4 separate regions of the Homo sapiens genome follow, and regions 1, 2 and 4 are each linked to region 3. Evidence: fine-mapped QTL for protein levels in blood plasma. A gene starts in region 3. Each other region holds a variant in brackets. All regions are shown on one strand. Distances are between the middles of the regions.

What was found. A credible set is the group of variants that fine-mapping cannot tell apart. PIP is the posterior inclusion probability: the model's chance that the variant is causal. Protein levels are from antibody-based Olink assays in UK Biobank. Linkage for the fine-mapping came from a reference panel and not from the study's own genotypes, which makes the PIPs less certain.
Region 1: its variant is the best candidate, but not a certain one, in a credible set for the plasma level of the BMPER protein (UK Biobank, PIP 0.51).
Region 2: its variant is the best candidate, but not a certain one, in a credible set for the plasma level of the BMPER protein (UK Biobank, PIP 0.76).
Region 4: its variant is the best candidate, but not a certain one, in a credible set for the plasma level of the BMPER protein (UK Biobank, PIP 0.80).

What each region holds. Positions count from the first base shown.
Region 1 is chr7:33,868,117-33,876,225 of GRCh38, forward strand. The region is part of intron 1 of LOC124901613 (a long non-coding RNA gene); the gene reads left to right. Among named protein-coding and RNA genes, the nearest start is that of BMPER, 33 kb to the right of the region's middle. The variant C/T (reference allele first, on the strand shown) is at 4,715.
Region 2 is chr7:34,030,557-34,038,665 of GRCh38, forward strand. All of the region lies in intron 6 of BMPER (BMP binding endothelial regulator), which reads left to right. Among named protein-coding and RNA genes, the nearest start is that of BMPER, 130 kb to the left of the region's middle. RefSeq lists an enhancer at 3,843-5,042. The variant A/C (reference allele first, on the strand shown) is at 4,493.
Region 3 is chr7:33,905,351-33,913,449 of GRCh38, forward strand. It overlaps BMPER (BMP binding endothelial regulator), which reads left to right and starts at 189. Exons shown (of 15, transcript NM_001365308.1): 1 at 189-396; 2 at 1,468-1,553. The coding sequence starts at 264.
Region 4 is chr7:33,751,928-33,760,036 of GRCh38, forward strand. No RefSeq gene overlaps it. Among named protein-coding and RNA genes, the nearest start is that of FLJ20712, 30 kb to the left of the region's middle. RefSeq lists an enhancer at 1-232. The variant T/G (reference allele first, on the strand shown) is at 4,337.

The DNA of each region.
Region 1 (8,109 bases), 37 kb before region 3:
TGCCACATTCCCTTGATGGTTGATGGTTATTTTCCAGAGCAGCAGCTCCACGCTTATATCTGATCATTTATGTTTGTGTGGAAATGAAAATAATATCCTCAGGCTCCTTAACAATTTCGCAAGCTGGCCTGTTGTGGGTGGCTGTGTGATGTCGCTGAGTGACACAGCCTTGGAAACGCAAAGGCTGCTGCTGTTTCACCTCCAGGATACCAAACACCCAGGGCTTCAGAGGGCTGGAGTTGGGGCAGTGTCACAAGATCAGAATGTGATCTCCGTGACTGCTTAGCCTGCTGAGACCCAGAGGCTCAGAGGCTGGAGGATGGAGGGATGCGACAAAGAAATGTAAAACATGCTCCATAACCTCAACTAAAAACCCAGCATTCCTTCTTTCTCGTACTCATTTATTCATTCACTCAACAAAGATTTACGGAGTGGCTGATATTCCCCAGACATTGCTTCAGATGCTGGAGTTTCGGTTGTAAGCAAGAGAGATGAAAATTCCTGCCCTTTTGGAGACTGCATTCTGGTAGAAGCAGACAGTAATGAAACAAAATAAATAACTAAATTAAATAGTATGTTAGATGTTGAGAAGGAGGATAGAAAAAAATGCAGCAGAAAGAAGGAGCACAGGGGAATGGGTCTGTAATTCTAGACTGGGCAATCAGAGAAGGACCCGATGAAGAGATGATGTTTGAGGAGATTTGAGGGAGGAAAGAGAGTCGGCCATGCAGGCACCTGGGAGAGGGCGCACCTGACATGGGGAAGAACTCCCTCTGATATTTTCTAGCCTTGGACTTCATCTCTGCCTTGGTCTGTCTATGGTGGTAATAACCTAACCTGAAAAACTGACTCTAGGTTAATGGATTATTGGAAATTTGCAGAAGGGACCCCAAGGGAACAGAAATATCTTAACACTTGTTAGAAATTATTTTTAAGTCTGTGGCTTTCCAACCTGTCCAGGAGCTTCTGAGGCCTCACAGACCCTCTCTCTGCCATTAGAGTTTATACTAATGTTTCCAAACTGTGGTCTTCAGGGGCTTATCCTGAGAGATATTGGCTCAGCAAAAAAAGGCCTTGTTTGTAAATAAACTGGGGAGATACAGTGTGCTGTCTTCCCAAAGTGAAGATTACCTTTAAGAATCCCTACAATAAAGAAGCCTGTTGAATTTTCTTTAACCCTGAGTGTCCCTAACTTATTCTCATGCCATGACTATTACGATGCCATGGAACAGATGTTCATCAGAAGACATTGACTCACACAATAGTGTTCCATGCTGGTTATAGACTGTCTGGTTCATTGTTTCTTCACTCGTCCTTGATGTCAGTTTCGTTGTATTGTCAGGCAGGGCTTAGGGATAAAATTCTCCAGTACAACCACTGGGTCCTGGACACAGAGGACAAATACACGAAATCATTATGGACCGAATGTAGATGGTTGTAAATGTGGTCCTACAGAAAAGGTCGCTCAGGGCTTCTTCAAAGTGAGTAGAAAAATATCTGGATAAGAGAAGGCCTTCTTTCCAGTGTAGACAAATGCAGAGACACAATTTCATTGCACAAATAAACATTAATTTGGGGCCAGGAGGTGGGGTGGGACTGTGAGGAATTTAGCGGGTAGACAAATTCTACATGGAAAATATCTCAAAGTATTCTCTTTGCCGTCCATCTGCTGTGCTCACATCCACCTCTCCTTACTGTCTCTGCCCCTTTCTTATTCTGTCTGTGGCTGCTGAGCGAGGGCTGGGCTCTGGTTATTCTTTTCTTCCTCAACTTTTCTGCCATCCTTTAGTCTTGTTGCCTCCTATTTTCTTCTTTTCTTCTGGCTGGACTTGTGCTTCCCATTCCTTATTTTCTGTTTCCTTTCAAACCTCCTTCTATTCCCTTCCCCCACAAATGGTTCCACACCCCGTGTATGACCCACCCACTCTGCTGCCCACTTCACAGGGTCTGTCTTTTGTCCCTGCTTCCATTTGGCCTTTTTATTCTGGGCCCTTGCCCCAGAGGAAGACAGACCTTTATTTCTTTGGTGTGTGTTTTTGCATCACCCGTGTGACATCTATGTTTGTAAGGCAACTTCAGCTCGGCTTACATTTTCAGTCATGCATAGGATTTACATGATAACAAAATCTCCTGTCTGGGAATGTGAGACAGATTCCTGTAGTCAGTGCATTCATCACTCCCAGGGATTTATTCAATCATTCCCTCACTGAGTAATGTTTATGTGTGAGGTACTAAGGACAAGGAGATAGAAGACATAATTCTGCTTGGAAGGAGCTCATGGTCTAGTGAGAGACACAGTGACCAAAGCAGATAATCTCAATAGAATGTGGCAAGTGTTGCGCCAGAGGCCAGGAAGGGATACTGTTCCAGGAGGGTCCCTGACCCAGCCTGGGAGGGCCAGGGATGGCTTCTCAGTCTCAACGGTAATTAGAACAGTGCAAATCTGAGCTTTCAACTGAAAATTGAATTTGGAAAACTTTTATCTTTTACTCTGAGCCTGAAAGTTTCTCAATATTTAAAGAGTTTTCTGATAGGATCAGTGGCATTATTTATAAATGGTATTTTAAAATACTGTAAATGAAACGTGTCAACATTGGGAAGATTTGCATAATTCAGTGTAATATTTTCCAATATATTAGGTTATAAATCATGTGTGGATAAAATAATACACTCAACATGAAAGATAGGCAATGGATTTAATGTAATTGAGTATAAAATGTTCAATTACCTGGTTTCAAATTCTATTCTGCAACTCACCTTTATTAAAACTAACATGTGTAGAGTTTTGGAGTATAGTGAAAGAAAAATACCTAAAATTATTTGAGAAAATTGGAACATATTCCTGCTTTTCCAACTATATAACTATGTGAAGCTGGATTTTCTTTCTATACTTCAACCAAAACAACATATTGCAAAGTAAGCAACACAGAAGCAGAGAGGAGAATCCTGCTATCTTTACGGAACCAGATATTAAAGAAATTTGAAAACATGTAAAACAATGCCACTATTCTCTCATTTTTTTCTGTTTTGGAAAATATAGCTATTTTTCATAAAATGTGTAATTTACTTTAACATGTAATTATTACTTTACAGTTAAGTAATTAATATTTAAAATTTTTCTCAGTTTCAGTTTCTAATATGGAAAATATTGATAGCTATACCCCACATAAACTAAGCTCTTTGGAGTCCTTAGCAATTTTTTTTTTTTTTTTTTGAGACGGAGTCTCACTCTGTCACCCAGGCTGGAGTGCAGTGGCATGATCTCGGCTCACTGCAACCTCTGCCTCCCGGGTTCAAGCGATTCTCCCGCCTCAGCCTCCTGAGTAGCTGGGACTACAGGGGCGTGCCACCACATGTGGCTAATTTTTGTATTTTTAGTAGAGACGGGGTTTCACTGTGATGGCCAGGCTGGTCTCGAACTCCTGACCTGAGGTGATCCACCCGCCTCAGCCTCCCAAAGTGCTGGGATTACAGACATGGCCACCATGCCCGACCCTGTCCCCATTTTCTATAGAAGGAAACTTAGACCCAGAGAAATTAGGAAGTGTGTCCATACTCACTACAGTGAACACCCTTGGCACCCCTGTCAAGTGCCCATGTGGTCATGATCACCAGTGCTCTGCACCCATTCCCCAGTTCCGTGTGCCTTGCTGCCAAGGGCTTATGGCTGGAAAATTCTTCAAAGGCTTGCCTGTGGGCTGCCATAGCCGCCTCACCTGTAGCCAAGCATCCAGGAGTTGATTACTGAACCTCCACCTACTAGCTGATGACCAATTGGTGAACCAAAGATCAGCTTCTTTGCCTCTGGATGAATTCTGGGGTGCAATTTACACTCCTGAGCTCCCTGAGAATCAGGTTGTGACTGGCCTTCAACCAAAATCACACCTCTTTACTTCTCCTTCTGTAGTGGGCTTCTCATTTACCACTTTCCCTGGGGAGTTCTTTGTTGATGGATCACTTGAATCTTTGCCTTGGGGTCTGCTTCTTAGAGACTCTGAAGACTGTCACTCACCTAAGTGGCAGAAGTCAGGATTTGAACCCAAGGCAGCCTGACTTCAGCACAGGTGCTTTTAGCTAGCACACTGGACTGTGTGCTCTCAGATTACTGGTGTAGGCCTGTTAACAGGTTAGTCCATCCAGTTGCAGGGTCTACAAAACTATGCTTCTTATTTTACCACACATTAAAGTGTCCCTTTCTACCGTGTGTATGGCAGATGCACCTGACAGCAATAACTTAAGCAAACCCAGAGAATGGCCGTATGATCTAGGAAGAATTTTGTTTCAGTTTCAAGCTAAGGAATACGGGAGTGGCCAACCTGGAGATTCACTCCTTCTTTACGAAGAATATCTGAACTCCTGGCCCGTTCCTTGAAATACAGGCCATCCGGGGAGGGGAAGGCCCTTCGTTTTGGGTTAAATGGAGGTTGCTAGGTGGAGGTTGCTAAGCCAAAATGCTATATACACTGCATACTTTTTACAAACGATAGTGGGTCTTCCTGCCTAATCCGCTGTCCCTGGACCACCCGATAGGTAAGTCTTCAATAAAGCCTGTATTTCGTTCGCTGGCTGTAGGTCTTTTCTTTGGCCTCTCAGACACAGTGCCATCCCTACAGAAGTCAATAGGGGTCCAGCAGATACCTTGAGAATGTATGTTCTTCACCCCTTTGGAAAAAATCCTTTGCATAAGGGAAAGTAACACTCCGCTAGGTCTTCA[C/T]GCTTATTTAAATCCTGTCAATCTAATATAACTGTGTATTATAGGCACATGCCAGCTTCCCTCCACCTCTCACACCAAGTAAAAACAAATGCAATATTGATAAACTTTTCTTTCCCATGACCCATGGTGGGTATAGATAAGTTAATGGAGAAATAGTGGTTGGCAATAACATTCCATGGACTCCTTCCGCTGAATCAGCAGTAGCAGCTAGAATTTCATAAGCTGTCACCACTTCAAGAGAGGAGAAGCGGTAGCCTGGTGTGCATGTGTTGGTCACACCCACACTGTGCTGAGCTCTGACTTCTGGGCAGTGTTGAATGCATAGGCTGTTATTCCCCAAACCCCTCACCATTCCTGGATTTAACCTGAGTCAGGGTAAGTGTAACCACCCGTCAATCGCCTTTATAGAAAACACTTTGGGTCCTGACTATTGGTTGCCCCTTTGTTTTTTGAGGTCCTTGAGTTTGTCTTGTGCTATACTTCATGGAAGGCACAGGAAATGTATCCCTAAAGCAGCCTTAGCATCAAAGACATTTCTGTGAAAACACCCCTCTCCACTACCACAGAACTGTTTATTTTTTCAATTAACAAAGGATAAGGTGGTCCACTGGGGAATTTTGGCTTAGAGCCCCAGAATTTAAATATGTATGCAAAGTAGGGGGTTAAAAAGACCTTAGATTAATCCAGTTTTTACAACACCTGGGGCTGTGGTGGAGATGGGGGCAGTTAATTTAAGCACTAACTTTTGAAGGAGCAATTTTCTCCCACTTTGGCTGCCTGGGCTCAGGCCACAGAGGCAGGCTTTAAGTATTTCACCTAACTACACTCAGGCAACAAGCATGGGAAACTCTTTGGCATGCCTTGGTATCTACTCACATTCTTCTGTTTTGCTTTGTCTTTCTCCCTGGACAAATGGCACCTTATTATCTAACTTGAGCCTTCGCATTCAGACTTCAAGACACAGCCCATGTTTTGAATTAAGGAAGAATGAGCCTCAGCATGAGCCCTGGGGAATCTGGGTTAGGTGATCCAAGTCCCCCTTGGGTTAGACTGAATGCAATACTTTTCTTCTTTACCCTGCTAGCAGGTCTATTGAGTTTCAAAAGAGATCAAGCATATATGTAGAAATTCTCCAAATTCTATAGCTCTGCTATGCTAAATTTTCTATCGAAGAAATTCTCGAAAAGAAAGGGAAGGGGCGTCTCACCAGGATCTACTGAGATTGTTCAAGAGGGTAGAGTAAGAGGCCACACATTGAAAACATTCCTTTTTGTTTCCTTCCTTACCTTATTTCCTCCAGTCTGAAAGTACAGATGTTTGAAACTCTTCTAGGAGTGGAGATGACCAATGACCAGTCTGACTCTGGGAGAGGCTGGACTTCTACTATCTTTAGCAGAGAGCCCCAATATGATTTTTAAAATTTACTCTCAAACCCATGGAACTGGGAAATATTTACAACACTTAGCCATTTGTTGACTTGAATATGTGAAGTCTTGCAGAGGAGCTATTTCTTTTCATTGTGACATCAATATAATTTATAGTGGATGGCATTCTGTCCCTGATTTTGTCTCCCTCTCTCCCTTCCTCCACCCCATTTACATTCACTTGAAAGAAAAGTCTCTTAAAAAGCATGTGAGTCATGACCTGAGCATCTATGAACAAACAGTGACTCTTCTTAGGACACAGAACACCTCTTTCCTGGGCATTGTGCATTCATATTTATGTAATAAAACTTAAAAATATGCAGGATGCAAAAGTCTTCTGGAGTAAAGTTGTTTAGAGTTTGCACAACCCATATAATAGCAACCGCCTCCAGAAGGTGGATTTCTATCTCAGCTCAGAGAATCCACTAACATGTGGGCCAGCCTTGGGCAAAATTGAGAAATGGGAGAAGACTTGGTTTGCTTCCTTCAGCCCCTCCACTTCTCAGCGAGTGTCTTGCTCTCTTCTATTCTCCCTGCATCTCTTGCTGTGCACTCAAACCCACCCATCCTGGTGTTAGGTAAGGCTGGGTTTAGTTTAACATGTTAACGGCCCTCTACATTTAAATCTTATATTTAATTATAAAAGGAAAGGGTCTGTCCTTTTAAAGACATTGTGGGGGACCTAAGCGGGGACGGAGGACACAGAAAAGAAACTTCTCGAGGAACTTTGACCAAGAGAAACACCATCTGAAAATGCCTAAGCTAACAAAACTGAGTTTAGGACATCTGCCTTTGGCCCATTCACGTTAACCACCACGTCCCTGGAGACTGGTTTTCCTCCTAATATGGTGAAATATGCCAAAAGCAAGTAAATTCTCCTGTGGGATTTAAAGGATTTAACTGAATCACATGGAAAGTTACCAGATTTTCTGAGTGATTTATGTGGTAGAAGCATGGTTCTATTTGGATGAACTTTTTGCTGTCTCACAGAAAAAAGAAAGTAAAATATTCGATATAGACTCACCAAGTGGTTCCAAGAACCTTGCCTTGAAAAAAAGAAAAAAGACACAGCCTTTTTCAAAGGTTAGTTTAGAAGTATTAAAAAATCATATTTTTATAGTAATAGTTATCACATTGCCAATATTTTTCCATCAACACTGTAAATAAAGTAACTTTCTTCTTGTTAGTACACCATTTAATTGCTCTTAAGTAAGAAAAGGGTGTGTAAGTGTGGTCTTAATCTAAGTGTTAACACACTGGTTAGAAATGTGAAGTCCCTTAAATTTATACAAAAAACCTTAAACACATGAGATAAATTTTAGAAGCTGTTAACCACATGGAGATGCTGGGTTCCAGACACAAGCTCTTGCTCCCTCAGAAATCTATAGCATCCCTTCAAAGTTGAAGTTCAGTTCCACTTAGAAAGGCATTATTTCCATTCTCAACCCTATTTTAAAATGAAACAGCAGAAGTGAATTCTACTGGGTTCTGTTCACATCGCAGTGACCCTAAAAAAGTCCACAGAAAGTACACTTCTCAATCAAATGTTTAGTTACCATTGACTGCGAAGACCCCAGAGAGAGCATGACATTTTTCAATGATTGCATCAAAATATATTGCTAGGGAATCCAGAAAAAATATACAACTAAAGTCTTGCTTTTCAAAAGCATCTTCAACCAGAGAGGCAAGAAATATTAAAGAATGCTTCATTATAATAAAGAAAAGGATGACCCGTTTTTAAAAAGAATGGAATTATGGGGATCCAAATGGAATTCAAATAATCCTGGTTGCGTCCTGCACTCCAGTATTTTGGATGCATTTGGGAATGCTGTTGGATCACTCTGGATTTGCCTTTTCTCTATATTCTACCCGACAAGTTTATATTCAGCAGTATCCCTCACACTGTGTGAAAATTAGCAGTGGTTCAAGGAGGAAATTTGGGGGTTTATATAAAGTAAGTGATGAATCTTC
Region 2 (8,109 bases), 130 kb after region 3:
TATGAAACAGGGTTCTCTGAAGTACTAGTTTAGAAGATGCTGCAGGAGATTATTGATAGAAATTACATTGATTTTTTTTTTTTCGAGATGGGGTCTTCTCTGTTGCCCCAGCTGGAGTGCAGTGGTGCAATCATAGCTCACTATATAACCTGGACTCCTGAGCTCAAGTGATCCTCCCACCTGAGGCTACAGGCACTGCCACCATGCTTGTCTAATTTTTTATTTGTTGTAGAGACAGGGTCTCGCTATGTTGCCCAGCTGGTATCAAACTCCTGGTCTCAAATGATCCTTCTACCTTGGCCTCCCAAAGTGCTGGGATTACAGGCCTGAGACACTGTGCCTCCCTATACATTGATTTTTTTGATGGAAAGATTTGGCTAATCTGAGCTACTTGTGTCTCTGAGGAAGACTGAGGTGAATGTTGGCAGGTGTCAAGGAATTCTCATTGTCTTTCACGTTAGGTCAAGTCCTTCATGTGGACAAAAGGACAGCCAGGCTGGGAATACGACAATTAGCTGGAAGAATTCTGTGTGCAAAAGTCACAGTTATCTATTTCATCCTTCCTTCTAGACCTCAGATGGATTGTGGTTACTGCATCCATCAGTGCTGTTTTTTTTCTTTCAGAAAAGACATTTTAAAAATGGTAATAGTGGCCTACTATAACTGCGGGGTTGCCTCACACGTTAATAGGGAACACCAATCTGTTTGTGTCATTGGTAAAGGATGTGTGTCAGCATGTGCTGTTTTTCACAGTGAGATGAAATGATTATCCCCCAGCCTCCAAACAAACCCCTCCTTAGGAAAACAAAGACTTGCAAGATTATTTTATAAAATCTGTGTTGAACTTATATAAATATATTGTGACAGCAGCTGTCATACTGCATATATCAAGAAAGTGCTTTGAAACTTTATGCAAATACATGGGTGATGTATACACTACTGTACACCCCAAAGACTACCCATGTGTTCTTGGTGCCAAGGAAAACACAAATGTTCTCCTAACTTTTCAGAGGAAAAGTCACCACAGCTCTGTACCTTTCATAGCCCCGTTCTCTTGGCCAGTGAAATATACTTTGACTGGCTAAACCCAAGGACAGTGAGGTGGGGAAGAGGGTGCCAGAGGTTCATTTTTAATTGATAACACTTATAGAGCAAGCACTGTGCTGGGCACTTTAAGCACATTGTTGCATATAATTTTCACAACAGCTTTGCGAGGAAAATAGCATTGTTTAGAGATAAAATAACCAAGACTCCAATTAAATAAACTCCCCAAGGTAACTCATTTATTATTTTATGGAGCTGCATGGCATTTAAAATTAATTTGACCATATATATATATATATATATATATATATATATATATATATATATACACACACACACACACATATATATACACACACACATATATATAAATATATCTTATATATAAATATATATGTGTGTGTGTGTGTATATATATATATATAAAATAGTTAACATTTATTGAGCATTTACTATGTGCCAGATACTGAATTAAAAGCTTTACCTCAGTTGTTCTGTTCTTTTCATGAACTCTATGAGACTGAATACTATTGTTCTTCCCAATTTACAAATGAAAAAATTGAAGCTTAGGAGAAGTTAATTAACTTTGGTGCAATACAGCAAGGAATAGAACTGGGAATCTGAAGGAGCTCTTAACCCCATGAGTTTGTTCCCTTAACCATATGTACTTCCAGCTTTCCTCCTTGATTTAGAATCTGGAACGATTTCCTGGTTTGTATTGAGTTTAAGCCATAGATCTTCTCGTGTCATCAGGAAGTAGGGTTTCCATAACATTTTAAAGTCATTATTTTTCCTCAAAGTTTTGATTCATCACCCATTATCTGGAGTATGGTATAAGTTCCGCATGCATGGATATTGTTATTTCTACAAATCGAATGATAGAGAAGATTTGGAGTCTTCAAGAGTATTTTGATGCAGACACCTCACATATTAAGTATTGGATGAAAGAAATGTCCTCTTTACACAGATTCGTAGCTTTTTGCTTATACTATTGGGCTACATGGGTAACTGTGTACCCTTTGGAGTTCGGAATGTTTGAGAAGAGAATCCTTTAATATTTTTACCATGAACAATTTTGTTTCAAACACTGCTCCTTTCATTCTCAAGTTTTAAGAATGCTTCTGCTTTTTAAAGTAAAATTCATCAGACCCTCCAAGAAATATTAATGTTGAACACTTTGCTCTAGTGGTTTCCCGTTTCCCTACCATGGCATGTTTTATTAGTGTTGGAGTGAGAACAACCATTTTCCAGCAGGACTGATTCTAGAGAGTGGGCCACTTTTCATTTCACAGTTAGAGGCTGAGAGGATTTGAGAAAGAGGGAACAAGAATTAATCCTCAAGGCTGCAACAGGCCAAACCAGGTCAAAGGCTCAGTAGATCATACTTTTTGTCCTAGACCACTGGAAACACTTTCCTAAAACAAAAACACTAAATGGTCATTGTATATGGAAGTCCACACAATGCATTTTAGGCAAAGTATATAATATAAATGGGAGCTATTTTCTACCTCAAGAATTTTTGGAAGGAGGATGGAGACCTTTTGTCTTAGAGTTTCATTCACAGAGTCCATAAACACTTATCAGGTAGCTACTTATAACAAAAAACATTTAATGTACCATCTAAATATTAAGAGAAATACCTCACTGAAAGGACAATATCTATAATTCACAGACTTGGGAATGTGCAGGACATTCTTCACATCAAAAATATGTTCAGCCACTCGGAGCTAGCAATGTTCTGATCATGAGTTGATTATGCACATTGAGTTATTTGTTTATATCAGTTCTCTGAACTTGGCAACCACATGTAGTACCAATGGATGAGGCTCTTTATAAACAATATAGACCACCTTAAGAAGTGATTTTCTGGATTTCCTGGTTAAAAAAAAAGCTAAGTGTTCAGCCTTCAGTATGTAAGCTTTCACTTAATCTGCCTGTTTTTAAGACACTACCATCAACTTTAAGTTAGGCTGGTAGAATAAAATGATGATCTTTCTGAACTTCTATGTCCCTTAATTCTGGACATTTGCCCCAAGAATATTCCCCTTCAATACTGGTCTTTGAAGAGAGCCCTGGGCATTTTCTGAGGGACTTGCCCTTGGGCATTGACCACAGAAGCCTTGACATCTCTTTTAAGTAGATTGGGCATTCCTGGATTTCTAGTCAAAGGTGGCCCTCCACTTGTCTTCCGTTATCTTCACAGGATTGTCTGTGGTTTTTAGTGCAATATTTAGGGTACTTCTGGTAAGCCCTTAAACTTCTATCCTTCTAGTTATGGTCTTAAAAAGAAAAAGTCCTGAACTGCTGTCGTTTTCTGTATCATTATCTGAAATAAGGTACTAACTAAGAATGTTCAGGTAGAATTTTCTTCTATTTAACTGGTTTAGACTTGTGTTTCTCCATCCTTCTTGAGAAAGACCTTTGGAGTTAAGCATGTTGTCACAGTTACGGAGCTGTGGTCCACTCAGACCTCACCCATGATCATAAGCTTTCCATCCAGCCATGGCCTCACTGAGGTGCTACTCCCTTCTGGCGTCTCAGCATGTTCTGGCCAAGATTACAAGACAATGCTTCTGAACCTGGCCTAATATTATTCCAGGAGAACTTCAATTTAATATAACTTATTGGCCAAACACTTCTTCTTTCTGCTTGGCCAATACATGAATCAATTTGTCAGAGAATATGCCTTGTGGATTTGTGCTATACTGCCAAATGCTGAGCATTGCTGACATAGATCATCTTTCAGTAGGAAGATGGAGAGCCTTCCTAGAAAGTCGGAGTTCATGATAGAGGAAATACCACTTTCCTGAGCCGGAAAAGATTCCCTCTTCTGCCATGTCTGTCTGCTGTTGTGCCCTCTGTTTGATGTTGCCACCATTTTTCCAAGCACTTTGGTTCTCAGCCTGGCACAGCCACTACTTCCACCATCTTTGCACATTTCAGCTAGTGTCCTGGAGGCCTCAGATGACAAAGCAGTATGGAAGTCTCCACTGAAGTGGCAAGGGCCAATATCACTTTCCTTTTTCTGTGTTCTACTCAATTATAGGACACCTAAATCAGTAGGGCCTATACTTGAATCTCACAAAGATTTTAGTTAAACAATTCTTTTGTGCTTTTACTTTCAGTATTCTTTCTCCTCTAGGAGAATACAGGCATCTGTGGTACTGAACTTGGGATGATGTGAGTGACAGATGCCAAGTTATGTTGGTGATAGCATGTTCCTTCTGTCAGGCTCAGTCAGTAGGTGATTCTCTTGTTGTTCATCTCTTCCTCCCTCAGGGTGGATTTTCTCTCAGGAGAAGCCGATGAGTGAACCTCTCCCTTTCACTGGACCTGCCCAGACATGTCAGAACACTAGCTTTGGCTCATGCTGGGACCCCCCACCACAGCTGGTGCCAACAGACTGTACACTTGTTTTTCTTTGATCATATATGGCCTAGATTAGGAT[A/C]GTCCCAAGAGCTTGCCAAGATTGGGTTGCAGCCTGTCTCAAAACACAAACTTAAAATTGTTTGACAAGACCAATACCCAGGAGCATCATGAGTTTGAATGAATAGTGCCGGAAACCTCTAGTCTCTCTGCGCAGTGTTCCTTGATGGAGGCCACGGAGTGTTTACTATAGAACTTCATGACATTGTACTTACAACATTTTAGATTTTGTTAAAATTTTAGGAAATTGCCACCTGATACAAATTAGAGAACTGCACATAACAATGGATACCAAATAGATATTTTGGATTTATTTCATTTAAAGACCATAGTGTCTGACATACAGAAACTCAAATGTATATTGAAAGGGTGAACAAAAAGGATGCCGTGACTTCAATTGCTATTTAGAAATGAAAATGAAGTTTAAATGTAATCTTATTTTTCCGTAGTGTGCTCAGGCATACTAAGGAAAACCTCAAAGACTTCTAAGTATAATTTTGTCAATACAGTGAGAGAGATTCAGGTATATCTTAATTAAGAGTCATTCATGTCAAGATAACAGATATTTTTTGTACCTCAAGAAACCTCAATGGAGCACAAACATTTTTGAGTTATTTTCAGCTTTAACTGACAACCCAACAAGAAGGTGTTTAACTGAAAACCAAACACTTCTGATGTTACTCTGGCCTCACTGTGTGGCTAGGCACTGTGGAAGACAGAAGAAATATTAATGAATATGGCTTCTGCCCTCTGTGAACCTTCAACCTACTTTGGGACAAACGATAAACCCATATGAAGCATTGTGGGAACAAAATAAAACAATATAAACTATTTTAGGTAGCCAGAACTTAAAGGTCAACAGAAAGTTTTAGGAAAACAGTTCATTGGTGATGTCTTGGGTTTCTGTCTCTGCAGTTCCGTATTTGTAGAAGTCTTGAGCAGTCAAAGGCCTCCGTTCGGCTTTCTTCTTAGTGCCTATCCAATGTTGTTGTGATGTAGATAGCCTGGGGAACATGAAAAAATGCCCTTTCTCCTGCATAATGGTGTTATTTCCTTCCTTTTAGGAATGGCTCATAACTCATAGGAGGTGTGAGTTCTAAATGATTGTTCTTTTCATCTGCCTGGAAGCGGGCCAGGCTGTAGATAAAGCGTTTGATGTGTCAGCAGTAGGCTTGTAACAGCTTTGACTACTTCCGTGATGATGAAAGTTTGAACTTTGATAAAAATGGCAAGAAAAGGAAAAGGGCTCATTTTCTTCCTTTCACTTTTTTTTGTTTGTTTGTTTCTGGGCAGCAGTTGAGAAACATCCTACCAGGGTGGTCTGCAAGGTCTCCAGGAATCTGAAATATTAGGAGGTGTTCTCCTGTGGATTTACTTGTTTATTTATTGATCGTTTCAGAGAGGGAACACCCAGGCTCAGAGGCATGGCAGGAGCTGGCTGTCAGGGCCCTTATCAGCAGGCCCCGCCTCTCCTCCAGTTTCAGCTCAGTTAGCCCTGGAAGGGGAAAGACCTTGCTGGGGGCAGATCACTGAGTCCAGCTATCATTCAGCACCTGCTTCCACACACCACACAATCTAGGGGTGCAAATCTACTCAGACTTCCAGAGCTTTGCCTCTCCTCTCGGTTCCCAGGGCATTTGTTTAGAGATCTCATCTGAGCTTGGGCCTATAGGGTGGGCTTATCTTCCTCATTCTAAAATAGACAAAGAGGAAAGTAAAATAGCTGTGGACACCCAGAACCAGTTGGAATTTGCCTCAAACAATATCGCAGTCTTTCATCAGTGATTTGTGTGTCTGCCTGAGTGGAAAGCCTGAGTTGGTGGAAGGAGAAGAATTTCTTTCTTTTTCAAAGAAAAAACGTAAAAGAAAACAAACACATGAACAAACAAACAAGGAAAACTGCCATTCAGCTAAGTGGCAGGAAGAGCTAAGATCAAGGACTCCAAGGGGAAGATGAGGCCAATTTTACCTTTAAAAATGAGACTTAAGCAAACACAATAACCAAATCCCCTTTTCAAATGGAGTTTAGTGGCTGGGCAGTGGGGCTCACACCTGTAATTGTGCTTTGGGAGGCTGAGGCACGAAGATTGCTTGAGGCTGAGAGTTTGAGGTCACAGTGAACTATTATTGCGCCACTGCACTCTAGCCTGGGTGAGAGAGACAAGTTGTCTCTTAAAAACAAACAAACAAAAAAGGGATTAGTGGAACTATGGTAAAGACATTTCCATCATGTATTTATTTAATAATCTAATATTTGCTTTATGAAATTATGATCTTTGGCTCTGCCGCTGTATGCAGTTGAAGTTTAACACTGTCTCTATAGCCAGGCTGGACCTGCTCACTTGTGCAGCTGTAGAAAGAAGGCATCTAGCTGTGCTATTCACAGGCTGAGGCCTCACAGTGCCTGCTCTGTAACCCCTCCACCGAGACCGGTTGAGGCATTTTTCTGTAAGAATCTTGAAATATAGCAAACATGGTTAAACTCTTTGGGAGTCATCTAGCTGACCATGAGAGGACATTGATGTCCCTGCAGGGCTCTGTAGCCTGGGCCAGAGGGTGCCTGGCCAAGTCCCACAGCTTAGTGGGAACTTCAACTTAAGGGGTTGGTGCTGGCCAGCAAGACTGGCATAGCGCCCCTGAAAAGACCTGTTGGCAACAAAGACAGTTTTCTTACTTCATTAACACCGAAAGTTGCTCCTGAAGCTGTCCATCAGCGCTTATAATTTGCCTATGACAAAAGGAGAGGGCGAATAAGACGAAAACATTGGATTGTCTGGTTTGAATTTCACCTTCTAACTAGACATGGGTGCAGGAAGAAGAAAAAATAAGTGGATGTGAACTTACTCAGATCGCAAGCCATAAGACCAGGATTTAAATCGAGCTTCTTGGCTATCTTTTCCTTAGGAAAGCATTAGAAACACTAGCTTTTTTGGTGAGGTGTGTTGTAGTCACATTAGGCCTGAAATATGACATTTGGGACTACACAGAGAAATTAAATGTCATTTATTTAATAATAATTAGGGTAGGCAGAATAATGCATCCCCTGGCCCCAAGATGTCCATGTCCTAATCTCCAAAACCTGTGAAGGTGACCTTACATGGCACAAGAGACTTTGCAGATAGGATTAAGTTAAGGACCTTGCGATGGAGAGGTGACCCTGGATTCTTTGGGTGGGCTGCCCACTTACAATAGTACTTATAAAAGGGAAGCAGGAGGGTCAGAGTCGGAGGAGATGTGATGATGAGCAGAGAGCACAGTCAGAGGGAGGTCTGAAGGTGCTGCACTGATAGCTTTGAAGATGGAGGAGGGGGCCATCAGCCATGGAAGGCAGGCTGCCTCTGGAAGCTGGAGAAGGCAAGGAAACAGATTCTTCTCTAGAGCCTCCAGAAGGAATGCAGCCTGCTGATACCTGGATTTTAGCCCCATGAAACTGATTCCAGACTTCTGACTGTAAGAAAATAAGTGTGTGTTGTTTTAAGACACTCCATTTGTAACTTATCATAGCAGCAATAGAAAACTTAATAAAATAATATAAACAATAATAACAATAATGCAGTTATACTTAGAAACATTAATTGGCATGCAAAATAAAAGGAATTTGTTTCAGGCTTGGTTCTCAAGACAGGGCATTAGTTCATA
Region 3 (8,099 bases):
TCCCTCAGGAAAAAAAAAAAAAAAGCCGCATCGGAGGAGCCTGGCCGCAGGACCCCTCCTCCCCGGGCGCCCCCACACCTTGGTCTCTCCCCCCGCCCTCCCTCACACCCCCCCGCCCCCCAGCTCTCGGGCGCCCGCCTCCCTCCTTCGCGGACGGTCTCCCGACACGCCGGCTGAGAGCCCTTTTCGACTGTGAGCTGCGGCAGCTGAGCAGAGGCGGCGGCGCGGGACCTGCAGTCGCCAGGGATTCCCTCCAGGTGACGATGCTCTGGTTCTCCGGCGTCGGGGCTCTGGCTGAGCGTTACTGCCGCCGCTCGCCTGGGATTACGTGCTGCGTCTTGCTGCTACTCAATTGCTCGGGGGTCCCCATGTCTCTGGCTTCCTCCTTCTTGACAGGTAGGGGAGGGGGCGGGAGGGACCGGCCCTCCGGGACGCCGGTTTGGTACCTGGGAAAGGTGGCGCTGGCTTGCCCCGGGGATGGGAGGGTGGGGAGCGCGCACCTTGGCGCTTGCCCTGCGCTGGTCGATGGGGATGAAGCGAAGCCCCGGGAGGGCTGGGAAGGCTGGTGAAGAGGTTGCGGGCTGAGAGGCTGTTGCCTTCAATGTAGTAATAATAGACATTCTTCTATTTGAATTTGAGAAATTATTTTATTTATTTTTAATGCTTTCCTCAACTTTTATTTTAATCTTTCCCTCTGTAGAACTCAGGAAAAAAATTTGTGCAGTTTTCCGCACATCTTCCTTTCTCATCTTTGGGGTTGCAATACATCCACTGTGCTAGGAGTGCTTTTTAAAGCACTGGCTCTCAAGACCTTGAATTTAAAGAAACTATCATTTAAAAAGGGCACTAATAGCCGGATATAATAATTATATGTTTTCAGGCAGGTGAAGACCTCAGCTGCTATTCTGAAGGACATACTTTACTGACACCTGGTGCAGAAAAGAAAATATGGAGTCAATTTCTAAGAGAAGGGAAAAGGGGATTGCGTTTCAAAAAGTGATTTAAACCTAAGACAATGCGAGACAGATTCATAGAAAGGCCTGTTTATTGACTCAGTTCTGAGTTTTGGTCAATTTAAAATCTGCCCCAATTTGAGGGTTTTTTTAAATTTTATTTTTTATTTTTTTCTTTGCGTATGGGGCTGTGTGCTTAGTTGAAATATCTTCATAAAGGAGGAGTGTTATTAAAAATCCAGTGAAATACTTGGAATTGTGCTTAGACCATCTGAGAACAGATAATTTATCCCTATATCATAGTCTTTTCTTTTTTGAACCTGTTTAAATAAAATTATTGAAAATGGAGTTGGGGGCAGAGGTTTTGCTTTGGTGAATTTAATAATTTAAACCACATTAAGAATTCTGAAGTTTGGGTAGAGGTTTCAAAAAGGATTAGTGTAAAAATTTTAAATGTTGAAATCATGCTGCTAAGCTAACTTTAAATGAAACATTTTTCCCCCCTGAATTTCAGGTTCTGTTGCAAAATGTGAAAATGAAGGTGAAGTCCTCCAGATTCCATTTATCACAGACAACCCTTGCATAATGTGTGTCTGCTTGGTAAGTGTGGAGATCAGGTAATATGAACTCAACTGCTCTCTCTGATAAGGTGAATCCATTAAATGTGATAATATAACCAGATCTTACAAATTGTCTTTATCATTACAAAATTGCACATAACTGTACATAGTTTGTGAGTTGAATCCAGTTAATTTCTGAGTTTTATGGACTTTGGCAATTTCCATTTCATCCAGCTGGAAATTCTTATCTTTGACATCATCCTTATAGACGTAAATTTCAGATAGGCTTTGTATGACGTCTCGGTGAAATGACAGTTTGTAATGTCTGTTTCCAGTAATGATTACTACAACCAAATTCTTGGGACAACAAAACTTTCTGCGTTGGTTCTGTCATTTAAGCTCAGTGGGAAAATGATGAGATAAGATTTAAGTATGAAGGTCAGGAATAAGGTATGCGACAAAGGGAAAGAGAGGTGACAGCCACAAAAAACAAACATAAGGACAAGATGTAATTCTGGATTTCTTTCTCGGGTTTCTTTGCCTGTTATACCCTAAACCCTCAAATACTGTCTTTATTTCTGATTTGGAAGCATGAGTCGGAAAGGACAATTCCATCCTTAATAGAGAATGACACTTGGCTGTCAGCTGCTTAGTTAACACTATCAGTGGTTAGAAGACTCAAAAAATAATTTGTTTCCATTTATTTTAGTTTAGTAGTTAATGATAAGTCTAATAAGTAACCACTTGGGGGAGATTAAGTAATGTGAATAAGAATTTCTGAGATGAAATATAGACCTACAAGGTAAACATTTTTGCTTAGGAGTGTTTTACATGCCAATCACTTTTGGCAAAATTTGGTTAGAAACTACACATTATAAAACCTTGTTGGAAATACATTAAGGCAGTCAAATGCAAAGCCCCAGAATGATAGAGGACTACTTGTTGCTAGATCAGCATGCTGTGTGGCGCTGGAGAAGGAATTCATTTCGGTTTAGGCAAAAGCCAAGCTATCTGAGTTTATACTACATAAATTTTTTCATGACAAGAGTTGAGGTCAATGTTTTGAAGTGATAAATGGGTGAAGGTAAATGGCTGTATCAAACAATTATCAGGTTCGGAAGACTAAGGAAATCAACAGAAACAAGTAAAAACGCACTGCGTTTGCTGACACAATAAATATTGCTGCCTAATAAAACAGAGCTGAGAGAGGGTGTATTATGATTGCATATTTATGGGTTGCTGTGTTCATTGATGATCTTTTAGTAAATAATTTGTTGAAAAGAAGCTTTCAGTTTAAATTTTGACTCAGTTGTAGATTTACAAATGCAGTGTGTGTGTATGTGTGTTTAATCTTCCTTTTTTATTTTTCTTATCTGTGTAATGTGAGTGAATTATTTTATCTTAATCTATTAAGATTTCAGAGGAAATTACCTTGACCAAGTAATATTTAAATGTGCCGAGAGCTTTGCATATAAATATATTGTTTTCACTTCAGCAATATTAGTACTTATCAAGCTTACGTATGTAGTTTGAGTTTTGTAAACTGTTCCCAAATAACATTATGAGAAATTCTCCCCACAGCATTCCCCCCTTTTCAGTACTCCTACCCCTGCTAAAAATAGTGCCTTTCTCTGAAAGTGGAGACTTAGTGATAAGAAGATAGATGTTAGAGTCCTGCAGTTTTGAAGGTAAAGATTACATCTGAAAAGATGCATCAGTTGGAATTCAAGTGGGAGTGATATTTATTACAGAAAAGTATCAATTAAATTCAGAAGGGCAGTAGGTTTATTTATGTCTTCAACATTTAAGTAACAGTTGTAGGTATCTGCCTTGGGTGAGTGCTGTCAGAAATCCTTTCTAAATGTGTAATATTAGGACTTTGGCTATCAGCTTCACCCATTACAGAGCTCTTTCATTGGCTGAAAGGCTCAGTGATATGTTATCATGACCTTTGCAGGGGTTTAGAATTATGGGGTCCAAGTTGTCACAGTCATTGCTGCTTCCCAAACGTTTGTAATGACTTGGTAAAATTGAGTAATAATAGATGGATGACCACTTATCTCTTTGTATAACACTCTTGTACATTTCCACGAACCCACTGCAGTTCATGGATTTCAAAGCACTCCGGACAGCCAGGAAGCTACTTGGCATTTTTGTACCTAGGCTGGAAGGTAGACCTATTGAGCAAATTGATAATAATAGCAATGGTAAACATTTATGTGTACTATTTTTATTTTATTTTATTTTTGCTTGTAGGGCCTCATCTAAGCCTGCATTATTTCATTTAATCTTCACAAAACTCCTTTGAGGGCTTTTACCTTTATTTTACAGATGAGGAAACTGAGGCATAGGGGGCTAAGTAGCTTGTGAAGGTTGCATTTGAGTAAATAGTGGAGCCGAAACTGTCTCAGTTTTGTCTGCCTCTAGAGCACATGCCTATAACCATAAGAAACAGCCTATTTGTTGAGTTAAAGATGTGAGAAAGTAAGGAGAAAATAGAAAGAACATCCAAATTATTTTACCTTTTGGCGTTCCTTGGGTTATTTTGTTTTTTCTTTTGAGTCTTTCAGGAGTTCAGTTAGTTGACATTTGTTAATCGCATTATATGAAAGGAAAATCTCGTTATGATTTCAGTTGACCTGCAGGGAGCGTTAGTGGTTAGCTGGTTTTATGTATGTACATTAAGAGGGTATGTAATAGTCTCAACTGTACTTTGGATAAAGAAAATAGTCATATTTAGTTTGTGTTGGTCCAGCCTTTTGGCAGAAAGGTACCTAAGGCTGAGTATAAGCTCATATCTTATTTCATAACATGTACAAAAAAAAAAAAAAAAGAAAGAAAAAGCTAACGTCAACGTATGCTTAAAAAAGATGTAAAATGTTACAGTTGGGAGGAAATAGGTGGCACAAAGTCCTGTATATAATTACAGAGTAAAAGCTTAAAAAACCCCACAAAAATCAACTTGGCCTGATTTAAACTTTTAAGCTGTGAAATGTTTCAAAGGTTGGAGTGAGCTCATTTCTGTGGAGTTTTTGAGGATGACAGTGGGTGCAGTGGCCACTGTAAGCAGAGCTGAATAATTTTATTCTCATTTATCATCCTCTGCGTAGACCTGAGCATCTTGCCAGAACCAGTCCCAGTCCAAGAATAACTGGTTTGTTAGCTGGTGATGGAATCTCGTTTTAAAGTATGTGGCCCAAAAAGCTTCAGTTCATCTATTTGAGGGGGTAGGTGAGAAGTTGGATCATGGTCCTAAAATCTAGGGAACTGGGTAGGCAGTTGAGATTAAACTGCATGTGCTTTATTGTTTAGTCAGAAAGCAAAGCATAACTTTTCCCTACCTTACAAAATGGTCTTTTATGGGGCCGAGGAAAGGAAGCCAACAGTTATTACTGTTTTTGTATGATATTTTCCCACTTTCTTGCTAGAATTATTTTTCCCATAATGTCTAGGAAAACACGTTGGTGCCTGCCCTGGAGTACAGCTGAGAAGAGAGCCAGCCACACCTAGATAAATGAAACTGAAGCCATTCTCTGATCTTTGGGACATCCCTAGGTCCACCAAGCACACATGAGAAGTGTGGTGCTTGATCTTCTCAGCCTTTTCCACCTAACTGTAGAATAGGAGGACATGGCGGGAGCCAGTGAGTTGGGCCCAGTACTGGAAACCTGAGAAAACTTTGGAGGCTGGGACTCAGAAAACCCGAAGTCAGAGCTTAGTTTGGCGTACATTTTGTTCAGCAAAAAACATTATTCTGAGGTTGAAATTTCCTCTTTAAAATCCAGAGGTGCAATGTAGAAATGGACCCTTTGCTCATAAAAAGCAACATGAAATTCAATGTTACAAGAATCAGGGCTCCACCTGTCTTGGAGCCAATCAAATAGTGAAGACAGAGAGACCTTGTCTGCTGTCTTCTACTTTTTTAATCACAAAAATCTAATATCGCTGAACAAGGAGCTCCCAGCATCTTAGATTCTGTCTGGTGTCTTATCTCCATAAAATCCTCATGTTCTTCATTGTTCAAATTAACTGGCTGGAGAATAGATATCTATTATCTAAACAAGTGTTAGGCACATGTTTGAGGATGAGGGAGATAACATTGCATGAGGATTCAATTCATGTGTGTATGCACGTGTGAAACAGAGAGAGAGAAGATATAAAGTAGACCAGATGTGTTCAGAGAGGTACTGCACTCAGTATATGCACAAATACATAGATTGCCTTGCTTTTTCCAAGTTGTTTCAGGTCATTTCTAGACTTTGGATGCTCACTAAGGAAGCAATCAGATTTATTTATTTTTACTCTGTTTAGAAGGTGATGTGACCAATTACCTTTCAACAGAACAATTTTTGGGAAAGGTAACAGTTAATGTATAGGATTGTGTCGGCAAATTCACAAAGACTAGTTCTGAGAGTTATTCTCGTCCATGCTTTATTCAGGCTCAGAGAAGTAGAGCAAATCTCGTGAGATCACACAGTTACTAAGAGACAGAACTGGGATGTGAAGTCAGTTCCTTCTTTGCTAAACCAGAGTTTCCCTCTGCTGGAAACGTTTACTACTTAAAAACTTCTACAGATACCTTCAAGAGCTTCAGAGAGTCCTTTCAACCTGCACAGAGCTAATGTAGGCTCTCTATGGAGGCAGTTATAGTGGTTTTGATCTTGCAACCCAAACTGTCTAGAATTTGGAGAGCTCTTCCAAGAAAGACATGGGTTTTGGCTGGCATCATAACATTTTGGCAAAGAACTTTGGCCCAGACATCAGACAGTCTTGGGTTAAAATCAAACTGGTGGTGAAGTTGAGACAACTACCTCACCTTTCCAAACCTCAGTTTCTTCATCTGGAGAGTGGGATGGATGTCAACATCTAGTTCACAGAGTTGCTATGTGAATTAAATGAGATGTAGCACATAAAGTTTGGCCTGGGGCTTGGCATAGAGTAAACACTCTGGAATGATTTTTTATTGCTGTTGTTGATGATGGCATTATTTTTAAAAATTCTTATTTCCTCATATGGAATAGGATGCAAAATTTCAAAAGAAAATGATAAAAGGGACGACGGACGAGACATAGGAATAATGATGGCAAACCCACCCATTGTTACGCATGAACAAGGTTTGTCAGAAATGTTTAGTGAGTTTTTCTGTCCCTCCAGGCTTGGACTGGGCTGATCTAGGCTGCTTCCTTATTGGTCCAGTGATCCCAGTGATCTTTGGGCCCTGGTGTAAGTTTTCCCCTCGCTTTCCATTAAACATAAACAAACAAACAAACAAACAACAACAAAAAACACAACTTTCCGTGGAAGAGGGGCCTGCTTTCTTGCAGAGTATTTACATCTCTATGCCTGTGGGGTCACCTTCACTTGTACTTTTATTGGCAGAGGGATTGGGTTGGGACTCGGGAGCACTGTAATTCTGGAAAAACTGCCTAGTGGCCTGGCATCATGGGGATTTTCCTGGCCCGCCTTGTGGAAGGCTCTCGACCCCTTTCCAGAACTGAGTATGTTTTTGTTGCCTACTTACTCAATGCTCCCCTTCCCCATCCCATTTCAAACACTGTTTATTTTGTTTTGAGGCACTGGACTTGACTGTGGGTATCAACAGTAAATTGTGTTTTAAGTGTAGGAAATAATGTTGAGGAAAGAGAGCCCTTCCCCAGACTAGAATGCAAATAGGGGGAGGGCAGTAGAATAGGAGATAATGGGAAAAGTCAGGCAAGGCAAAATGATGGAAAAATAAAACTAGTTAATATGAATTTGTTGGGTAAATAAAGGATATCAGTTTTTCACACCCTCTTCTATGGCCCTTCTGTATAAATGATGATATATTGAGTCCTTTGTGCTATAAAAGAATATGAGTAACACCACCTTTCATGGCAGTGGGAGGTCAAGTGTGCTTGTTGAACTTAGTTAAGATCAGCAAATGAGCTGGGTGTATATTTTAAGACCTGTTGATTCCCAGTTCTAATTCTATAAAACACCACTCAAGGCACTAGGGATAGCAGGTTATAAATTCAATAATATTATTCTTTCTTCCTTCTTTCCACACTTCATCCCCTCTTCCATTTTATTTTATTATTTTTAGCCCTTTCTGTGTTTGAAGCATTGTGCTGGCTGGGGACCTTTGAGGAGACAAAGACCAACAGGACAGATTCTTGCCCACAGCCTAATGGGGGAGACGAACACATATATAAATAAGAAACTTTATAGGAGTGACAGAAAAGCACTGTAATAGACTCAAACCCCTGTACTAAGGGGGCTGCCAGTGAATTCTGACTAGGGTATCTGGGACCGTGATGTGGGAGGAGAGATGATCCAGGCAAAGCCTTGTTGGAGGAAGGACACAAAGAGAGTGTGCTTGGGACTGTGGAAATGGCAGCGTCTATTGTGCCCAAAGCTGTGATGGAGCTGGAGTTAGAAATCTCCATGGGAACCAGCAAGGGGAGCATCTTGAATGTAATAATAAGGATATCAGTTCCATTCATGTAACTGGGAGAAGCCATTTAATATTTTTGTGCAAACACATGACACAATAAAATAAATTTTATATAAAGATCTCTAGGAGCTTTTGTACGGGATATACAGAGTG
Region 4 (8,109 bases), 150 kb before region 3:
AAAGAAGCTAGAAAGTTACAAGGTGAATAAAATTAAAACACTGCCAGAAAAAAAATGTAAGAAAAACAAAGTATTAGTTGAAAATAAAATTTAAAATGTTTGTAAGATAAGGTACATGTGATAAAATGAATGATATTTAAAATAAAAGATAAGAGGCTTGAAGTTAATAAGATAAAAGTTTAAAAGCATAAGCATAGAGGAGGTAAAATATTAAGATAAAATGCTCATAGATGAAAAGCTGAAAATGTAAATCTACAGTTACACGCCATATTACGATGTTTTATTAAACCACAGGACCACATAGATGATGGTGGGCCCATAAGATTATAATACAGTATTTTTACTCTATCTTTTCTGTGTTTAGATATCTTATACACAAATACTGCTGTGTTACAGTTGCCTACGGTATTCAGTACAGGACCATGCTGTACAGGTCTGTAGTCTAGGAGCACTAGGCCATACCACATAGCCTCGGTGTGTAGGAGGCCCTACCATCTAGGTTGTGTAATGCACTCTGTGATGGTCACAACAACGAAATCACCTAAGGACACATATCTCCAAATATATCCCCATCATTAAGCAATGCGTGACTGTAGATGGGATTAGCAATTAAGTTCAGGAATTCAGGACTAAAAATACTAGGATAAAGATATTAAAACTCTAAGATTTCAAGTGTCATTTAGAGTTGGGTGCTTCAGGAAAATAACAGGTTTCCTGCTGACTCCTGTAGATTTTCTGGTGGCTTCTGTGAAGGCTGAATCCTGGAACCACCCCACTGCCCTACAGCCATGGTGGCAATAGACGCTTTCCTGCTTGCAAGTCTTCCTTCCTTCCTTCCTTCCCTCCCTCCCTTCCTCCTTCCCTCTTTCTTTCTTTTCTTTCTTTCTTTTCTTTTCCTTCCTTCCTTCCTTCCTTCCTTCCTTCCTTCCTTCCTTCCTTCCTTTCTTTCTTTCTCTTTCTTTCTTTCTTTCTTTCTTTCTTTCTTTCTTTCTTTCTTTCTTTCTTTCTTTCTTTCTTTTCTTCTTTCTTCTTTCTTTTTTTTTTTTTCTAGTTAAAGTCTTGCTCTGTTGCCCAGGCTAGAGTCCAGTGGCTCAATCTCGGCTAACTGCAACCTCCACCTGCCGGGTTCAAGCAATGCTCCTGCCTCAGCCTCCCTAGTAGCTGGGATTACAGGCATGTGCCACCACGCCCAGCTAATTTTTGTTTTTTTTTTTTTTTTTTAGTAGAGATGGGGTTTCACCGTGTTGGCCAGGCTGGTCTCGAACTCCTAATCTCCAGTGATCTACCTGCCTTGGCCTCCCAAAGTGCTGGGATTCCAGGTGTAAGCCACTGTGCCTGACCAAGTTTCTTTCTTACCCGTGCCTCCATCACTGGTGTTTGGTTTGGATTAAGAATGTAAGGTTGAGACCCAGAAAAATGACTGAATAAAGCCTATCTCTTTAGCCTATTATCTGCCCCCGTGTGCCTGGGAGTTGAGCCACATCAAGCCACCTGTCAGGACACAGACCTCCCTCCTGCCTCTTTGCCCACTGGGTTCCAATCCGTTTGCTTGGAATGCCATTCCTCCCTTCTTTTGCCTGGCTGGGTTTTACCTACCTGATAAACCTTAGCTCGAGAATCATTTCCCTGGGAAGCCTTTTCTGAGTCTCACCACTGTGCTTTCCCACCCCTAGTTTAGTTTATTTTTCAGCCACATTGCAGAATAATTGTTGATTTGCTTGTCTGCCTTCTCCACAGTACCAAAGATCGGGGACCACTGTATACTAATGGAAAAACAGCAACAGCAATAAAGCACGATCTATCCATTTTCTCATCACATCTTCAATAACCCCACAAAGCAGGCTCTGATAGCCACATTTTATAGATGAAGAAACAAAAACTTATTTATTTATTTCCTTGACAAATCTCCACTGACTTTCCACTATGTGCCTGGCATACAGGGGTTAACTAATCTGCCCAAGGCTGCCCATTTAGAAAACTGCAAAGCCAATCATTGAGCCCAGGCCTATCAGATTCTAAGCCTGTGCTCTCGCCAGGATGCCTTTTCTCCTCAGCACATAGTAGGCACTCAGTAAATATTTGTCAAAGAAGTAAATGGCTACATATGAGAGTAAAGGCCCTGGAAACCCAGCCCTCTTTCTCTGAGATCCTCCTCTAGCAATGGGCTGACAGTGCTACTTGGAGGCACTGCAGTTGCGTCTTTTGATCTTCCATGCATCCTTCTAAAGGAGGTACTGTGTTTTAGGAAGATCCCAAAGGTAAACATACAGGTTGCAATAAAGCTTTCCTGAGAATCTTCTTTTGAAAAAGCAAACAGGACACAGACTCCAGAGTTTTCAAATTATTGTGATTTCTAGGATTCGTTTTTATGGTTTGGGAGTGGAATGTATGGCTTAAGCAAACACAATTAAATCCAAATTACCCGTGGCCACGCAGCCACTGGCTGTCTTTCCGTGTGGGAAAAGGCAGGGCTTTGTAGGGCTAGAAAATATCTGAAAAAAATATGAAGTGACTCTGTCTTTTTTTCTTTCCCTTTTTGTAAATGTTCTTTTAAAACACACCAAATTCCTGAGGAATTTGCTGTTTTATCTGTTTATTTTTTTGATTTGTTAGTGTCCTAGAGCATGAAATCTTATTTAAAAGGCACTGTTCTTTCTTGATATGGATGCCCATGATTTTCATTCTTACTTTCTAAGTCCAAAAATGAAATGCAGTTCTGCCTCATTGGGAGCATTTCTGTATTCTTAAAATGTGCTGGTGTTTTTCCGGCTAAAGATGTTTCAGAAGCAGTGGGTAGGCAATTTGTTGTGATTCATAGTGAATTTATTTATATGGAGAATTTTCTCCAAATTTTAAACACAGTGTACCCTTTGGTACTTCGCGTATGTGCCAAAGTGTCATCTCCATATGACTGGTGCAGGCCATTTGAATAAAGTTCCAGATGGGAATCATTGTTCAAATTATTCCTTTCCCATCATCTAAATACAAATAGCAAAATGGAAAGCCGTTTTCCATTGCTTCCCAAACAATAATAATAATAATAATAGTATGAAAAAATCCTGACAGATACCTTCAGATAGTATGATATTATAATGACCGTAACTGCTATAATGGGACTCTTTTACAGATGGCAGCCGAGCCTGATCAAACCATTCATTAGTCCTTCTAAAAACTGTCATATACATTCTCTTCTTTATGGTTCAAAACACAAAAGCCCCTTTGTGCCTTTAGAGACGTAGCTGCAATTTCAAATAAAAAGAGCAGCACATTAGCTGCCATTATGCCTGAGCCATATCATCAGCATAAAAATGAATTTGTAATATTTTGCCACATGTGATGTATTATTGCCGGGCTATGTAAACAATACTGGGTCTGAAATTGAGCCTTGGGGACTCCCTTTACAACTGACAAATTGAGAAACAAGGCCATCAACTCTCACACATTGCATCCGGTGAGTTAAATAACTCAGCCAAGATCCATTTCCAGCCCAGTCTGAGATAATCTCTGTCCTGTAATAATAAATCATAGTCAAGGGCGTCGGATGCCCCAGGCAGATCTATAAACCCGTAAACAAGGCTATGCTCCACAATTTTGATCACTCTTAAAAGCTCAAGCCAAATCATTCATGGGTTTAATCTCAGCATTGGTCACAATTACATTCACAGCTCCCGTCTGCCCATGAAAAACAGCAGAGTTGCTGTTTAGAAATAGATCAAGGTAGTAGCTTTCTCTCTTTGTTGATTTTTTGGCTTTCCCTTCTGTACTCATGAAATCAGTGAAAGCTGGCGTCTGCACTGGGGATCAGCCACAGAGAGCATGGGACAAGTTCTATTTATTCCAAAGGAAGGAAGCAGAGGAAGATTGCATGGTAAAGCCGGGTTGCTGGGCAAATGATTCCATTGTCGTAGAACGTGGAACCAGAGTTTTGGGCAGAAATGGCCTGGGGAATGGTGAATTTGCTCAGTTGTGCCTCCTAACTGAGTTTTTTCACTTTGCGTTGGTGGCTTATGTTCATGGTTTCATAGGTTTAACTGTCTGATTGGTGGCCACTTTGAGCACAATGGGATTGTTAACACTTGTTGGTTGTATAGGGTCAAAGCTTATACACGGATGAGAATTGACTGCTCAGACCAAGTGTTTGGCAATTCTCAGTCTGTATTTTGTTCTTTAACTTGCTCTAAAATTCACAATAGAGTTAATCTATTCCTCTTCTCGAGCTTTACTTATTTTCGGAATTAATTATAGTTGGCCCTCATTATCCACAGTTTAGCTTTCCCAAGTTTCTGTTACCTCAACTGTGGTCCAAAAATAGGTTAAGTACAGTACATTAAGATAT[T/G]TTGAGAAACAGAGAGAGACAGAGACCATATTAATATAAATTTTATTACAGTATTTATTATAGTGTCTAATTTCACTATGGTTAATTTTTTCCTGTGCCTAATTTATAAATTTATCATAGGCATATATGTATAGGCAAAAACAGTGTCTATAGGGTTCAGTACTATCCAAGGTTTCAGGCATCCGCTGGGGGTCTTGGAATGTACTCTCCACGAATAAAGGGAGACTGCTGTTCACACAAGAGCTGAACAGCCAAAACTGGGGAGATTGATAGGGGGTACCAAAGAGAGAATTTGGAGTTCAAAGTAAGATGCGTAACTCCTTTTATGATTAATATTGGCAGGAGAGGGAATTAGCATTTGCTAAACACATACTCAGTTCAAGGCACTATGCTGCCTGACTTGGAAATGTTATCTCACTTAATCCTGACAGTAATCCTGTTGGGTGATATAATCATTATTTAAGAAAGAGGAGGCTGGGCGTGGTGGCTCAAGCCTGTAATTTGTTTTACACTTTGGGAGGCCGAGGTGGGCGGATCACAAGGTCAGGAGTTTGAGAAGAGCCTGGCCAATATGGTGAAACCCTGTCTCTATTAAAAATACAAAAATTAGCCGGGCGTGGTGGCGCACACCTGTAGTCCCAGTTACTTGGGAGGCTGAGGCAGAAGAATCGCTTGAACCCGGGAGGTGGAGGTTGCAGTGAGCTGAGATCGTGCCACTGTACTCCAGCCTGGGCGACAGAGAGAGACTCTATCTCAAAAAAAATAAAGAAAAAAAGAAAGAGGAAAATCAAGACTCAGAGGGGCGAGGTCACTTGCTCAAGCACACATAGCTATGTGACTGACAGAGCTGAGAGATGAAACTAGGTTAGGGTGACTGTCAACACACAGTGTTTCTCCTGTGCCTCACTGCCTCCCAAGAGTGAGATCTCAAATTTATGTGACATCTCTGACTTAAGGCTGGGTAGGCAAATAGGATTTTATGTCAAAGTTGCTGTATTAGTAGTAGTGCCTGGAATGCCGTGTGGAGAAAGATTGTCGTTGGGTGAAATTCTCCAGTTGATGAATGGTGTTGGCCACGTGTTTGGCTGGGGAGGCCAGCAGGCAGCAGGCCGGCTGAGCGTATGCTGGGTTCGCCTCAGGTTACTAGGAGGCATAGTCTATTGTCAAGCAGAATTGTGCCTGTGTGTTGGGTAACAATGTATACCCACAATGGTTATACGTTGGTGCAATGTATTATTCATAACCTGTTAGGAAGAAAATTCTGTTGAAAAAAGCCTCCTAATTGCCACTCTGGAAAGTATCAAGTTGTGGTCCATCAGCATTTCAGGGGCTTATATTTTTGTAAGTAAAACACACTTGAAGGCACCCTGGCAATACCTAGGGTATCCTGCCCTTAAAGCATCCTATTTAGAGAGTAATTATTTTCTATCTTTGTTGCAGTAACAATAGGGGAATGAAACCTAAATGAATGATCAAAACAAAAACTCCTCCAACCACGAGGTGGCGCTATAATCTATTACTCAATTTATAAATGCTTCGTGGATTGCTTGCTGACTATTCTCTTTTTGTTCCTGTTTTACTTGCTTACTTTTTAAAAATTTATTTTTTTAATTGAAAAATAAAAATTGCATCTATTTATTGCATACAACATGTTACTTTGAAATATGCATACTCTGTGGAATGCCTAAATTGAGCTAATTAACGTATGCATTACCTCACACACTTTTTATCTTTTGTGTGGTGAGAACATTTAAAATCTACTCTCTAGGCAAATTTGCAAAAATACAATACAATACAATACATTGTTATTAACTGTAGTCATAATATTGTGCAATGGATCTGTAGAACTAATTCCTGCCATCTAACTGAAATTTTGTACTCTATTTTTCTTTTCACACTCATTTTAGTTCTTTCCTTCATTTCTCCAACCCTTCTCAAAACAAACTAACGAGCCAATGGTCCAACAAGCAAATATCTCCTCCAAGTACCTTTTTTATTATTATTCTTTCCTCATAGTCCCCGTATTTTAAATGACTTAATGTAGCAAACAAACCTTAATTAGTAATAAAAATTCATTTGGGGGTTTTCATTAATCAAAGACTATCAGAGCTTCTGCTCAGAATATGTGTTATCAAGTAAGTTATGTTTCTCCAGCTAAAAATTAAAGACATTTAGTATTTTAGATAGCATGCCTATGTAATGTTATCAAGGTTTTTTTTTTCAAGTAATGGAAATTGTTCACCAATACTCATTACTGCCTTTAAAGACTTCTGGGAGGGGTGTCTTTAAACTCTTTTTGAGAATCAAATTCATTCCTGGGTCCCTGGGTAGAAATTTTGTAAATATCAGGATGCTGAGGCTGCCTCTCCAAAAGCAATACCTACTGGTTCTCTTTCTTGGTCGTTTGCTCACAAATTCAAGCTCCTTGCCCAGGATTTAATTCTCCATTTCGGAGAATTTAATCCTGAATAACACTTACACCTGAATAACGTCTTTAATTCTAGGTTCTTATCATTCACCAAGAAAACTAGGCCATTTTGGTTTAAATTAAATCACCGAAGTTCTTGTATGATTTGTTGGTAATAGTAAAAGAGACTAGACTCATGAAATTAGGGATCGCTCACAGTTGTAACAATTAGACCACACTTCCTCCCAGACACAAGTTTTAAGACTATCAATTAAATATAAACAGGTTTTCTGGCTGTAAGATTTTAGCTTTTGTTTCCTTTCCAGTTAGCCTAGAACCCAGCAGTCCACATGTGCCTGAGAGAGGAAGAGATGGTAAGACCAAATGTTGCTCAAAACCTTGGAGACAAGTTTGGTTCTAGCATGAGCTGAAGTTTTACTAGATTAGGAATTTATATAGGCTATGTCCTTCAATTCGTCTACATAATTTCCCATTGTCTAGTGAGCACTATAGCTCAAGGACCAATGGCACCCAACACCTTAGAAATAAAATTCGTGAGTCCAAAGACAAAGCATGCTATTGTTTGGCTCCTTCCACTGCCACAGGAAGACTTTTGTTATTGGACTAAACTTAGAAGAAGTGAAAGTTTTATGATAAAAGCAATTCTAAGCCAGTCTTTGCATAATGAGCCAATCCCAACAGTCACCTAATAATATTTTCCTCCCTGAACTCTACCTTTGAATAAACATCTTCCTAATCATGTGCCCCAAACTGTTTCTAGCGAATTCAGGAAGAGAGCAAAGTCCAACTATATCTGATGTATCACCCAAGTGGTCCAGAGGTAGATGGCTCGATTGATACAAACCCAACGTAAATTCACAGATTTCAGACGTGTTATATTTATGATCAACTGTGACCCACAAAGTGAAAAGTGTGTGGATCAGTGAAGTTTGGTGGTCTTTAAAAAGGAAGGGAGGCCCTCATCTCCCCCAGAATGGTGCTGAATGTGGCTGGAATGTAGCTAGGTGTCTGCCAGCTGCCATCCAGGCATAATCCAGGTGGGAGCCCCATCTTGGTACAGAACGTAGGAACCCATCTACAGTTCTGTGGCTTTCCTTCCCCAGAGCTGTGTCTGGCCTGAATGTAAAGATGTTTGGAGAAGATGACAAATCCAGTCCATGACCCTGGCTTTAGTCCAGTTCCTCTGACCCCCCTAAATCAGGTCTCAGAGCAACTTGGAGCTTAATGCAGAGGAAGATAATTCTTCTGACTGTGGAAAATATTAGCTAAATAGATGACAAAGATCGGTTGTAAAATCTCTCTAAGAAATGAATTAGATCAGTCTGTCTGCCTAAGGTGGTATGGA